Linked DNA regions of Homo sapiens: region 1 is linked to region 2. Evidence: fine-mapped expression QTL. A gene starts in region 2. The other region holds a variant in brackets. All regions are shown on one strand. Distances are between the middles of the regions.

Evidence for each region. PIP is the estimated chance that this variant, and not a neighbour inherited with it, causes the effect.
Region 1: its variant is the best candidate, but not a certain one, in a credible set for the expression of UROD in monocytes after LPS (Fairfax 2014, PIP 0.66).

Annotation. Positions count from the first base shown.
Region 1 is chr1:45,291,517-45,296,886 of GRCh38, forward strand. It overlaps LOC105378691 (a long non-coding RNA gene), which reads right to left. Exons shown (of 3, transcript XR_947287.4): 3 at 4,296-5,226. Among named protein-coding and RNA genes, the nearest start is that of LINC01144, 9.7 kb to the right of the region's middle. The variant CT/C (reference allele first, on the strand shown) is at 3,152.
Region 2 is chr1:45,009,429-45,014,798 of GRCh38, forward strand. It overlaps UROD (uroporphyrinogen decarboxylase), which reads left to right and starts at 2,826. Exons shown (of 10, transcript NM_000374.5): 1 at 2,826-2,857; 2 at 3,479-3,591; 3 at 3,708-3,787; 4 at 3,864-3,926; 5 at 4,166-4,363; 6 at 4,481-4,642; 7 at 5,011-5,148; 8 at 5,308-5,370. The coding sequence starts at 2,838. HECTD3 (HECT domain E3 ubiquitin protein ligase 3) reads right to left here and starts at 1,896. Exons shown (of 21, transcript NM_024602.6): 1 at 1,461-1,896; 2 at 1,118-1,278; 3 at 773-865; 4 at 558-693; 5 at 140-255; 6 at 1-54. The coding sequence starts at 1,829. RefSeq lists silencers at 1,563-1,732, 1,813-1,942 and enhancers at 2,703-2,752, 2,793-2,922, 4,333-4,869.

The DNA of each region.
Region 1 (5,370 bases), 280 kb after region 2:
TTATAGCTCATTGGCCACCCTATCTAAAAGACAGGTTAGAATGTAAAATTTTTCCTCTAGACATGTGGCCAGCAAATTTTCCCTAACTAAGAAGGGAAAAAATCAATATTAAATAGGCAATTAATCGTCTGTAGATCAGAAGAAACAAAACATGGCCTGGCATAGTGTGTGTATGTATGTGTGTGTGTGTGTGTGTGTGTGTGTATATATATATATATATATATATATATATACACAGATATATACAGAGAGAGAGAGAGAGAGTACAATGAGATTTATTATAAGGAAATGGCTCATACAGTTATGGAGGCTGCAAAGTCCCATGATCTGTTATCTGCAGGCTGGAGACCCAGGAAAGCCAGTGATATAGATTTCAGCTTTAGTCCAAAGGCCTGAGAACCAGAAGCACTGATGGTGTAAGTCCCAGTCTAAGGGCCAGAGAAGACCAACGTCTCAGCTCAAGCCATTAGGCAGCCCCAGCAAACTATTATAGCCCCATTTAATCCTCCCACCGACCCCACAAAGTCAATCATTAGCTCAATTTTATAGGTAAGAAAACTGAAACACAGAGAAGTGACATGACTTTCCCCCTCCTCCAGCTCATAAATGACAGGCTAGGGATGACAGCCCAGGTTTTCTTGACATAGAGACCCTGTGGCAACCAGGGCCCTTCCTTCCAGGGCTCTGGGCTACTCAGAGATTTGACAGAAATGTGGTGTACTCCCACTCACCTCCTCTCTCTCCCTGACCTTTGTGAGTTCTCTTGACCTCTTTCTCCGAGTACCCTAGCCCAACCCCAGGCATTGTCAATGACTCTCTGGCACAATTAGCTCTTTGCTTTCACTCAGGTAACTCAGAAATCTTCTGTGCCCTTGTAGAGATGCTCTTCCCTGAAATCCTCACATTTTAGAACCTGTATCAGCCCAACATCTCCAGCTAGTGTTAATTGGGAGGGATCTCTCCACCACTTTCCCCCTCTAGAGAGCTAGCCAGGGGCCAGGACAACTAGGCAAGCAGGCACTGCACCAGCTACCCTCACAGCAGTTCCCATGTGACATTCTATTTAATCCTCACAACAAACCTGTGAGTTAGGCATTATTATATCTTCATTTTACAGATGAGAAAACGAAGGCACCACACAGTAAAGAAACTTCCCTATGCCAGGCACAGCGGCTCACACCTGTATTCCCAACACCTTGGGAGGCCAAGGCAGGAGCATCACTTAAGCCCAGGAGTTCAAGGCTGAAGTGAGTCACAATCGCATCATTGCGCTCCAGCCTAAGCGACAGAGGAAGGCCCCTGTCTCATTAAATACATAAATAAATAAAAGAAACTTGCCTAATGCCACATAGTTAATGATACTTGACCTAGACTAGAGAAAGCTTCCTTGAGAAGCTTTGAGCTGAAGGAGTAGAAAATAGAAGAATATTGCTATGGTCTGAATGTTTGTGTCCCTTAAGTTTCATATGTTAAAATTTTAACTGCCAAGGTGAAAGGTATTGGGGGGTGGAGGCTTTGGGAGAGATTAGATCATGAGGGTTCCTCATGAATGGGATTAGTGCTCATATTAAAGAAGCTCAAGGGAGCTTGTGTGCCCTCCCAGCATGTGAGGACACAGGAAGAAGGCGCCATCTGTGAACAGGAAGAGGGCCCTCACCAGACACCAAATTTGCCAGCACCCTGATATTGGAGTTCCCAGCCTCTAGAACTGTAAGAAATAAAGCTCTTTTGTTCTATAAGCTACCCAGTCTATGGTATTTTCTTATAGCAGCTCAAACGGACTAAGATGAGTATCATGTGCAAAGGTCCTGTGCCAGGAGGGAGCCTGTGTGTTTGAGAGAAGATCATGTAGCTGAAGCTGGGTAAGAGAGCAGAGCAAGAGGGGCAGAGGCCAGGCTAGACAAGGCCTTGGAGACCTCCTTGAAGTTTTGGATCTCTGTTATAAGAGCAACAGGAAGCCATCAGCTGGATTTAAACAGAGAAATAATGAAGTAAAGTCATCAGTGGGTTTTAAGCAGTTGGAAAAGATTCTTCTGGGACAGTGTAGATAAATGATTGCAGGGCAAGTGAAAGGCAGGGAGACCATTAGTGTCCATGGTGGTAATCCCAGCAAGAGACGGTGGTAATCCAAGCAAGAGACGCTGGTAACGCGGATTAGGACAACAGCAGTAGAGACAGAAGTGAAAATGGAAAGAAGTGGATGCTTTCAAGAGCCATGTAAGAGAGAAAATTGGCAGCACTTGGTGACTGGACACGGCTACAGGGTGAGGGAGAGGTTGAGGTCCAGGTTTCTGGCTGGTGCAACTAGCTGGGTGGTACATGTTTCACTCAGATAGGGGATGCTGGGCAAAGAAAAGATTTGGGGGAAACTGTGTTCAGCTTGAGACATGTTGGATTTGAGTAAGACACCAAAGGGGAACTATCCAAAAGACAGCTGGACATGGGAGCTCGAAGGTCAAAACAGAGGTGTGGGCCTGAGTACATATTTGGGAGCTGTAACCAGGACCAGCCCATCCGCTAAGCACAGTAGAGACATGAGTGCCCCAGGACTTTTAGGGCTGACAAAAATGCTTTAATTCCTGATATGGTTTGGATGTTTGTCCCCACCCAAATCTCATGTCAAATTGTAATACCCAGTGTTAGAGGTGGGACCTGGTGGCAGGTGATTGGATCATGGGGGTGAACTTCTCATGAATGGTTTGGCACCATCCTCTTGGTGCTGTCTTCACAATAGTGAGTGAGTTCTTGCAAGATCTGGTCATTTAAAAGTGTGTGGCACCTCCCCCGCCCCACCCCGCCTTCTTGCTCCTGCTTTCACCATGTGATGGGCCTGCTCTCCCTTCACCTTCCACCATGATTGGAAGCTTCCCGAGGCCTCCCCAGAAGTAGATACCACTATGCTTCCTGTACAGCCTGCAGAACCATGAGCCTATTCAACCTCTTTTCTTTGTTTTTCTTTTTCATTTTTTTAAATAATTGAGATGGGATCTTGCCATGTTGCCCAGGCTGGTCTCAAACTCCTGGGCTCAAGTGATCCTCTTGCCTCAGCCTCCCAAAGTACTAGGATTACAGGCATGAGCCACCATGCCCAGCCAAAACTCCTTTCTTACAAATCACCCAGTCTCAGGTATTTCTTTTTCTTTCTTTCTTT[CT/C]TTTTTTTTTTTTTTTTTTTGAGACAGGATTTTGCTCTGTCACTCAGGCTGGAGTGCAGTGGAACAATCTCAGCTCACTGCAACCTCCGCCTCCTGGGTTCAAGAAATCTTCCCATCTCAGCCTCCCCAGCAGCTGAGACTACAGGCACACACCACCACAACTGGCTAATTTTTTATTTTTCTGTAATTTTTGGTAGAGATGAGGTTTCTCCATGTTGCCCAGGCTGGAGGAATTTCTAGCAGTGCAAGAGCACCCTAATACAATTCCCTTTAAATCAGAAGAAAAAACAAACTTTTAAGTCAAAAGTTTTTTGGTTTGTTTGTTTGTTTGTTTTTGAGATAGAGTCTCGCTCTGTCACCCAGGCTGGAGTGCAATGGCATGATCATGGCTCACTGCAACCTCCACCTCCTGGATTCAAGTGATTCTCCTGCCTGAGCCTCCCAAGTAGCTGGAATTACAGGTGCACACCACCACACCCAGCTAATTTTTGTATTTTTAGTAGAGACGGGGTTTCACCATGTTCCCCAGACTGGTCTCGAACTCCTGACCTCAAGTGATCTGCCTGCCTCAGCCTCCCAAAGTGCTGGGATTACAGGCGTGAGCCACTGCACCCAGCCTGTTTAAGAGACAGAGTTGCTCTGTTGTCCAGGCTGGGGTGCAGTGGCTTGATGATAGCTCACTGCAGCCTCAAACTCCTGGGCTTGAGTGACCCTCCTGCATCAGCCTCCCAAGTAGCTGGGACCACAGGCTTGACTGCGCCTGGCAAAGAAGATGTTTTAATAAATAATATTAATATAATTTATCTTTGTGCTAATGCAGTCATAAAATATAACTTTAAAAAAATGTTTACAGGCCGGGCACAGTGGCTCAGGCCTGTAATCCCAGCACTTTGAGAGGCCAAGGTGGGTGGATCACGAGGTCAGGAGTTCAAGACCAACCTGGCCAACATAGTGAAACCCCATCTCTACTAAAAATACAAAAATTAGCCAGGCATGGTAGCGTGTGCCTATAGTCCCAGCTACTCAGGACGCTGAGGCAGGAGAATCGCTTGAACGCGGGAGGCGGAGGTTGTGGTAAGCTGAGATCGCGCCACTGCACTCCAGCCTGTATGACAGGGCGAGACTCTGTCTCAAAAAAATAAATAAATAAAAAGTTTACATAGGAAGGGGCCCACAAAAGTCTGAATGCTGCTCTGTTTGTAACAATAAACATGCTTTCTGCTATAACAGAAACCCACTGGCAATGGCTCCAACAGTGACAATGTTTAATTTCCCTTGTGTGAGGAAATTCAGCGTTAGTGTGGCCTCCAGGGTTGGCAGATCGAGTGCCCTTAAAGGCAAAGACTCCTTCCATCTCTCCGCTCTGCCACCTTTACTGTTGGCTCCATCCTCAGGTGTTAGCAAAACAGCTGCAGCAGTTCCAGGACACCTTCAGACTTAACAACATTCCCGGGAAAAAGAGATACTTCTGTTTACATCACTCTCACCTAGGGGTGAGGAAACCTTTCCCAGAAGGCCTTCAGCAAACGTCCTTATTATGGAATAAATGTTTGTGTCCTCCAACATTCTTATGTTGAAATCCTAACCCCCAAGGTATGTATTAGGAGATGGGGCCTTTGGGAGGCGATTAGGTCAGGTGATTAGGTGTTTGGTGCCCTTACAAAAGAGACCCCCAAAGAACTCTCTTCTTATTTTGTTTTTATTTTTTTAGAGACAGGGTCTTGCTCTGTCACCCAGGCTGCAGTGCAGTGGCACTATCATAGCTCACTGCAGCCTTGAAATCCTGGCCTCAAGTGATGGTCTTGCCTCAGCCCCCAAGTAGCTGGAACTACAGGTTCTCACTATGTTGCCCAGGTTGGTCTTGAATTCCTGGCTTCAAGCAATCCTCCTGCATTGGTCTCCCAGAATGTTGGTATTACAGGTGTGAGCCACAGTGCCTGGCCCCCAGAGAACTCTCTAGCCCTCTTTCTGCCAAGTGAGGTCACAGCAAGAAGACAGTCAATGAACCAGGAAGCAGGCCCTCACCAGACACCGAATCTTCCCATCCTTTGATCTTGGTTCCCAGCCTCCAGAACTGTAAGAAATACATGTGTATTGTTTAAACCATCCAGTCTATGGTATTCTGTTATAGCAGCCTGAACTGACTAAGACGGTCCCTTTCATCTCACTGAGCAGGGCTGGAGCATATCTTCATTCCTAAACCAACTACTGGCAAGAA
Region 2 (5,370 bases):
ACCCGCTTTGGCATAAAGTTGTCATCTGTGGTATCCACTGTGAGTAGCAGCTTCCTGAAGGGTCAGAGTGTGAATATGAGTCTTTGTGAACCCACAGGGACATAGCCCACCCACCCTGTCCTGCCCAGAGCCTACTTACTTGACAATGGTGCCCTTCTTCATAGTAAGCCGTACCCAGTGTTGGCACTGGGACCCATCGCTCTCCCAGTAGGTATCGGCATTGCTGTCTGTCAGGCAGGACACGTTGAACTCCTCCTGGGGAGGGGCAGAGACGTGAAGTCAGCAGTTACCCTCCCTCCCTGCACTGGGCTTGTGCTCTGGGCCAGGAGCACCAGAGAGAAAGCATAGTGAAGTTGGGCTAACAGGCAACTGGTATGGGATAGGGGGCCGCTGGGTATGTAAGGGGTCCTATAGACGTCCAAGATGGGGAGCTGAACTGAGTGTGGCCTGTGGGGACCCTGTTTTAGTCCTGGCCTGCAGGTGGGGGTTCTTTCTGGATCTAGCCTTGAGGGGTGTGACTATATCTTGCCTGGGGTGGGAGGAGCCCCAGCACCCACCGTGTAGGAGGAAACGTCTATGCTCTCCACATACTGCTTCACGCTACCCAGGTTCTCATCCTCCTTGCCCAGGTGGTCATACAAGAAGTGGATCAGGTCCTCGTCGCACTCGTAGGTCCATGTCGGGGGTACATAGCTAAGCAACCCCAAGCCCCTAATTAGACTGGGCCCAGACGCAGAGCTCCTTCCTCCCCACCCCATTCCAGCTCACTCACAGTAGCCTTTGTACAGCTTCTGCGTATGCCTCTGCCGGCTGAGGTCTCGATCCCAGGCGATGTGAGTATGTCAGGTCCACCACCTGTTCCCACCTGTGGGCACAGAGTAGGGAGTGGGATGGGGAGACATCAGCGGTCAGCAAGACACTACCTCCATGCCGTGTAGCCTTCTTCAGGGCTCTATCTCCCAGTCTCCCTCCGAGCCCCCTTCACGTCCCGCCCCTTTCTGCTCTTAACCCTGCCTCCGCTCCAGTATCCCACCCACCCCAGGCTGTGGCTGAAGTGTTCCCAAGCCCTCCTGGCCCGGCCTTCTGACAGCCAGCCCCGCTCCTTCAAGTGCAGTACCTGAGCACCGGCCGATAATCCACGCCAAAGAGCTGCTGCTGCCGCTGGAGGTGGTTGGGAGTGTCGATGGGTACCAGGCGGGCTCCGCCCTCCGCCGGGCGGCACACCAGCAGCCAGCCTTCCTGCAGCCCGCAGTCGCCCAGGTGCTCTGCCAGCTGCTCCTGCCGGGACGCGTAGGATGGGGACAGCCGTCAGGGAACTGCCCAGCCGCCTGTCGTGCCCAGCCCAGGGCAAAGGGCGCCGAACGCAATGCCAACTCAATACAGGGGAGAAAAGGCAAACAGCCAGAGGTTTCTCTGGCCCCAGGGGTCTTTTACCGGGTCCTGGGCAGGGAAGAGCGCACCTTTGTCAGCTTCACCCAGAGCCCGTGGCCATTGCACAGCTCCTCGCCCGTGGTGCGCACGCAGGCGCCGCGCCGGAGCTCAATGCTGTCGCGGGCGGCGCGGAGGGGCCCGGAGCCGGTACCGGGGGCTGGGCCTGCGGCGCCCACACGCAGCCCCAGGCCCTCTGCCTCCCACACCGGCAGAAGCACGCGCGACGGTCCCGCTGGGTCCTTGTAAAGCTTGTAGAGCACCTCTCGCGGCACGAAAGCCAGCGCTGCTGGCAGCGGCCGCCCGGCGCGGAGGCTCCGCGCTGCCTCTGCCAAGAAGCGCACGCGGCCCAGCAGCTGCCGGGGGGACTCCAGCACCGCGCCCGGGCCAGGACCCGCCATGGCGAAGTGGCGGAGGTGAGCACCTAGAGGCGACCCTGCCCGGGGAACAGCTGGCGCGACCGCGGACAGAGCTTCCCACCACGCCCTTCCCCGCCTTTGGCCAGCCTTTGCCGTATGTTCTGGACTAAGCGCACCCCAGCTCTCACTGTATTGGACTGTGTACTCCCACACTCAACCATATTACTTATCTCTGTGCCACCCTAACCCAGCCGACCAAACCCAAGATTGGTGATTGCTACCTGATCAATCTCCCTCTCTCCATTTCCTTGTGACTACCATTTTATCTCTACTGCTACTACCCTCATTCAAGTCACCATTCTAGCTAGCCTGGGTCATTGCCAACAGTCATTTTTCTGGTTCTTCGGCCTGCTGTTTTTCCTCCCACTCCCAGCGAATCTGCTGGACTCCCTATCCTATGGGTGGTGTGATTAAAGTGTTTGAGACAATGGCCCCTTCCCCTGCCACTGACAGGAGTCTTGAGTCATTAGGGTTGATTCTGTTTGTCACTCCTAATCCCAAGGACACTGGAGATCATTATTCATTTTAATGTGATTGCTGATTTCTGTTTCCCCAGTCTTGTAGCTCCTTAAAGGCTGGGGCTGTCTTGAGCAGAGCTAACCTCTGCACCTACTATAGGTCCAGGCTATAGTATGGACCTGGCTGGATAAGACTGTTGGTATCATGAGTGGGACTTGCGCCAAGCCTCCGGATACCCAGACTGTCAGATGAGAACAAATTCCTCATGTCACCGTAAGATACATTTACAGCGGAGTTTTCTTTTGGGCCTTTGTTGTTGCGTCGCTACAGCAAACTTTACGGTGAAAAAAGGTAGGGGTCCTACGGGCAGCAGCCAGGGCAGCCCTGGAGCTGTCGCTGGAGTCCGATCATGTGATCTTCAACATGGCGACGCTCTTGGTTCCCTACAGAAAGGGGCGGAGCCTGGACTGGGGGGCAGGCTCAGATTCAGGTTAAATTGTGGATTGAGCTCGCAGTTACAGACAGCTGACCATGGAAGCGAATGGGTTGGGGTGAGTTCTCCAGAGCACGCGGTGTGGCTAGCCGGGCTTCTAATTTGAGTCTTCCAACTCAGGACTCTATCCCTCTACTCCCCTTTCCCCACCCTGGAGACCTCCCAACCTGAACTCCGTTAGCTGGGATCCTGAATCCTAAAACCATGGATTTTTGAGATGTTCATCCCAGGGCCTTAATTCAAGGGATGCCTCAGGATTTCCAACCAGGATCTCTATTCTGGGACCATCAACTCTGATCCCTCTTTATCCCCCAGCCTGGGTATTTCTCAGCCCCTGAACCAGCCCAGTGACATTCCCGTTTCTGAGGCTCACTAGTTCGAAGACCCCCAAACTATCCTTAGTGGGCCTTCATTCCCTCCCCCCAGTCCCTCTGGTTGCTTCGAGCTTGGAAGAGTAGAGACTAAGTGGAGGGAAGAGGCCCCAGGGCGGGCCCTTCTGGAGTTTGTGCACCACCTGATAGGCAGAGAGGAGGCGGAACGGGCGGAAAGCCAGGGTTTGGGAGCTGGCCTGGAGGAGGTAGATAGCGGTCCTGGACTGAATCGGCCTTATGAACCCGCGCTTTCCCCAGCCTCCAGCGTAGCATACTGACACCTACCCCCACCCCCACCTGATCGCCAGACCTCAGGGTTTTCCGGAGCTGAAGAATGACACATTCCTGCGAGCAGCCTGGGGAGAGGAAACAGACTACACTCCCGTTTGGTGCATGCGCCAGGCAGGCCGTTACTTACCAGGTAAGAGTCAGGGTCTGGAAATCTAGATAAAACTCCGGAGGGAGAAAAGTTTTCGAGGGGCAGGGGAGGGCTCTGGAGGGCCTCAAGGCTGAGCCCTGTCTTCCCTCTGTATGCAGAGTTTAGGGAAACCCGGGCTGCCCAGGACTTTTTCAGCACGTGTCGCTCTCCTGAGGCCTGCTGTGAACTGACTCTGCAGGTGAGGGGTCCACAAAAGAGGGAAAGATTTATGCCTTCAGTCTGCCACCTAGCAACCTGTCTCCTGTTTCCTACAGCCACTGCGTCGCTTCCCTCTGGATGCTGCCATCATTTTCTCCGACATCCTTGTTGTACCCCAGGTACCCACTCAAACCTGATCCTAGAATATAATCCAAGGACGCCTTGAAAATCCTTCTATCAGTCCAGTCAAGGTTTACAATAAGCACTTATCCTAACTGGATCGAGGGAAAAACTAAGGTTGAAAGAAATGGAGTTTGGCAGAGTTTTATTCTCCTTTTCCTTCCTCCTGGAATGAGCTGAACAGAACCTTTCCTCCTGGATTCCATTTTGGGAACCCAGATGTTTTCTCCCCCTCCAGGCACTGGGCATGGAGGTGACCATGGTACCTGGCAAAGGACCCAGCTTCCCAGAGCCATTAAGAGAAGAGCAGGACCTAGAACGCCTACGGGATCCAGAAGTGGTAGCCTCTGAGCTAGGCTATGTGTTCCAAGCCATCACCCTTACCCGACAACGACTGGCTGGACGTGTGCCGCTGATTGGCTTTGCTGGTGCCCCAGTAATGTGGGACAGGGCAGGGACTCGGGGCGCGGGGAGATCACTCTGGAAGGTCTGGGGTAGACAAAAGGAAGGGTCAGTCTGGCTTCTGTGACACCATCTTTCTATCCTTCTCTAGTGGACCCTGATGACATACATGGTTGAGGGTGGTGGCTCAAGCACCATGGCTCAGGCCAAGCGCTGGCTCTATCAGAGACCTCAGGCTAGTCACCAGCTGCTTCGCATCCTCACTGATGCTCTGGTCCCATATCTGGTAGGACAAGTGGTGGCTGGTGCCCAGGTGAGTCCTGAGAGAGAGAGAAATAGGCTGGGATTTGGTCTGTAAGGACCAGAAGCAAGAGTGTCCTAAACCTGAGAGGGCAGGGGTCTTAATGCCAGGGATGAAAGAACCTTGGCCTCCAGTGATCTAGCGGAGCAGCCAAGCCCATCCTGACACTGACAGTGGGGCTTAATGCTCTAAGTATTCAGACACCAAAGTTAGTGCTGGGATCTGAGGAAAGTAAATTTTTTTTTTTTTAATTACTGGGTTTTTAGGGTCAGGCAGTATCAGGGATTGAAGTCATTTGGGGAAAATTGAGGTGGATTTTGTATGTGGGGGAAACTTCCTCTTTGTGTGTTACATATTTTTCTTCACCATACCCTAACTAGGCATTGCAGCTGTTTGAGTCCCATGCAGGGCATCTTGGCCCACAGCTCTTCAACAAGTTTGCACTGCCTTACATCCGTGATGTGGCCAAGCAAGTGAAGGCCAGGTTGCGGGAGGCAGGCCTGGCACCAGTGCCCATGGTGAGGATTGGGATGGGTTGAGTGAAGGTGGTCCTGTGGAGCTTTCAGGCTAAGTCCTGCATGGACTGGAGTGACCACTGGAGGGCAGCAGAAGTACAGTCAAGAAAGATTAGTGGTTGTAGCAAGGCCCTCTGTAGCCTGAGATCTGCTTTTTTCTAGATCATCTTTGCTAAGGATGGGCATTTTGCCCTGGAGGAGCTGGCCCAAGCTGGCTATGAGGTG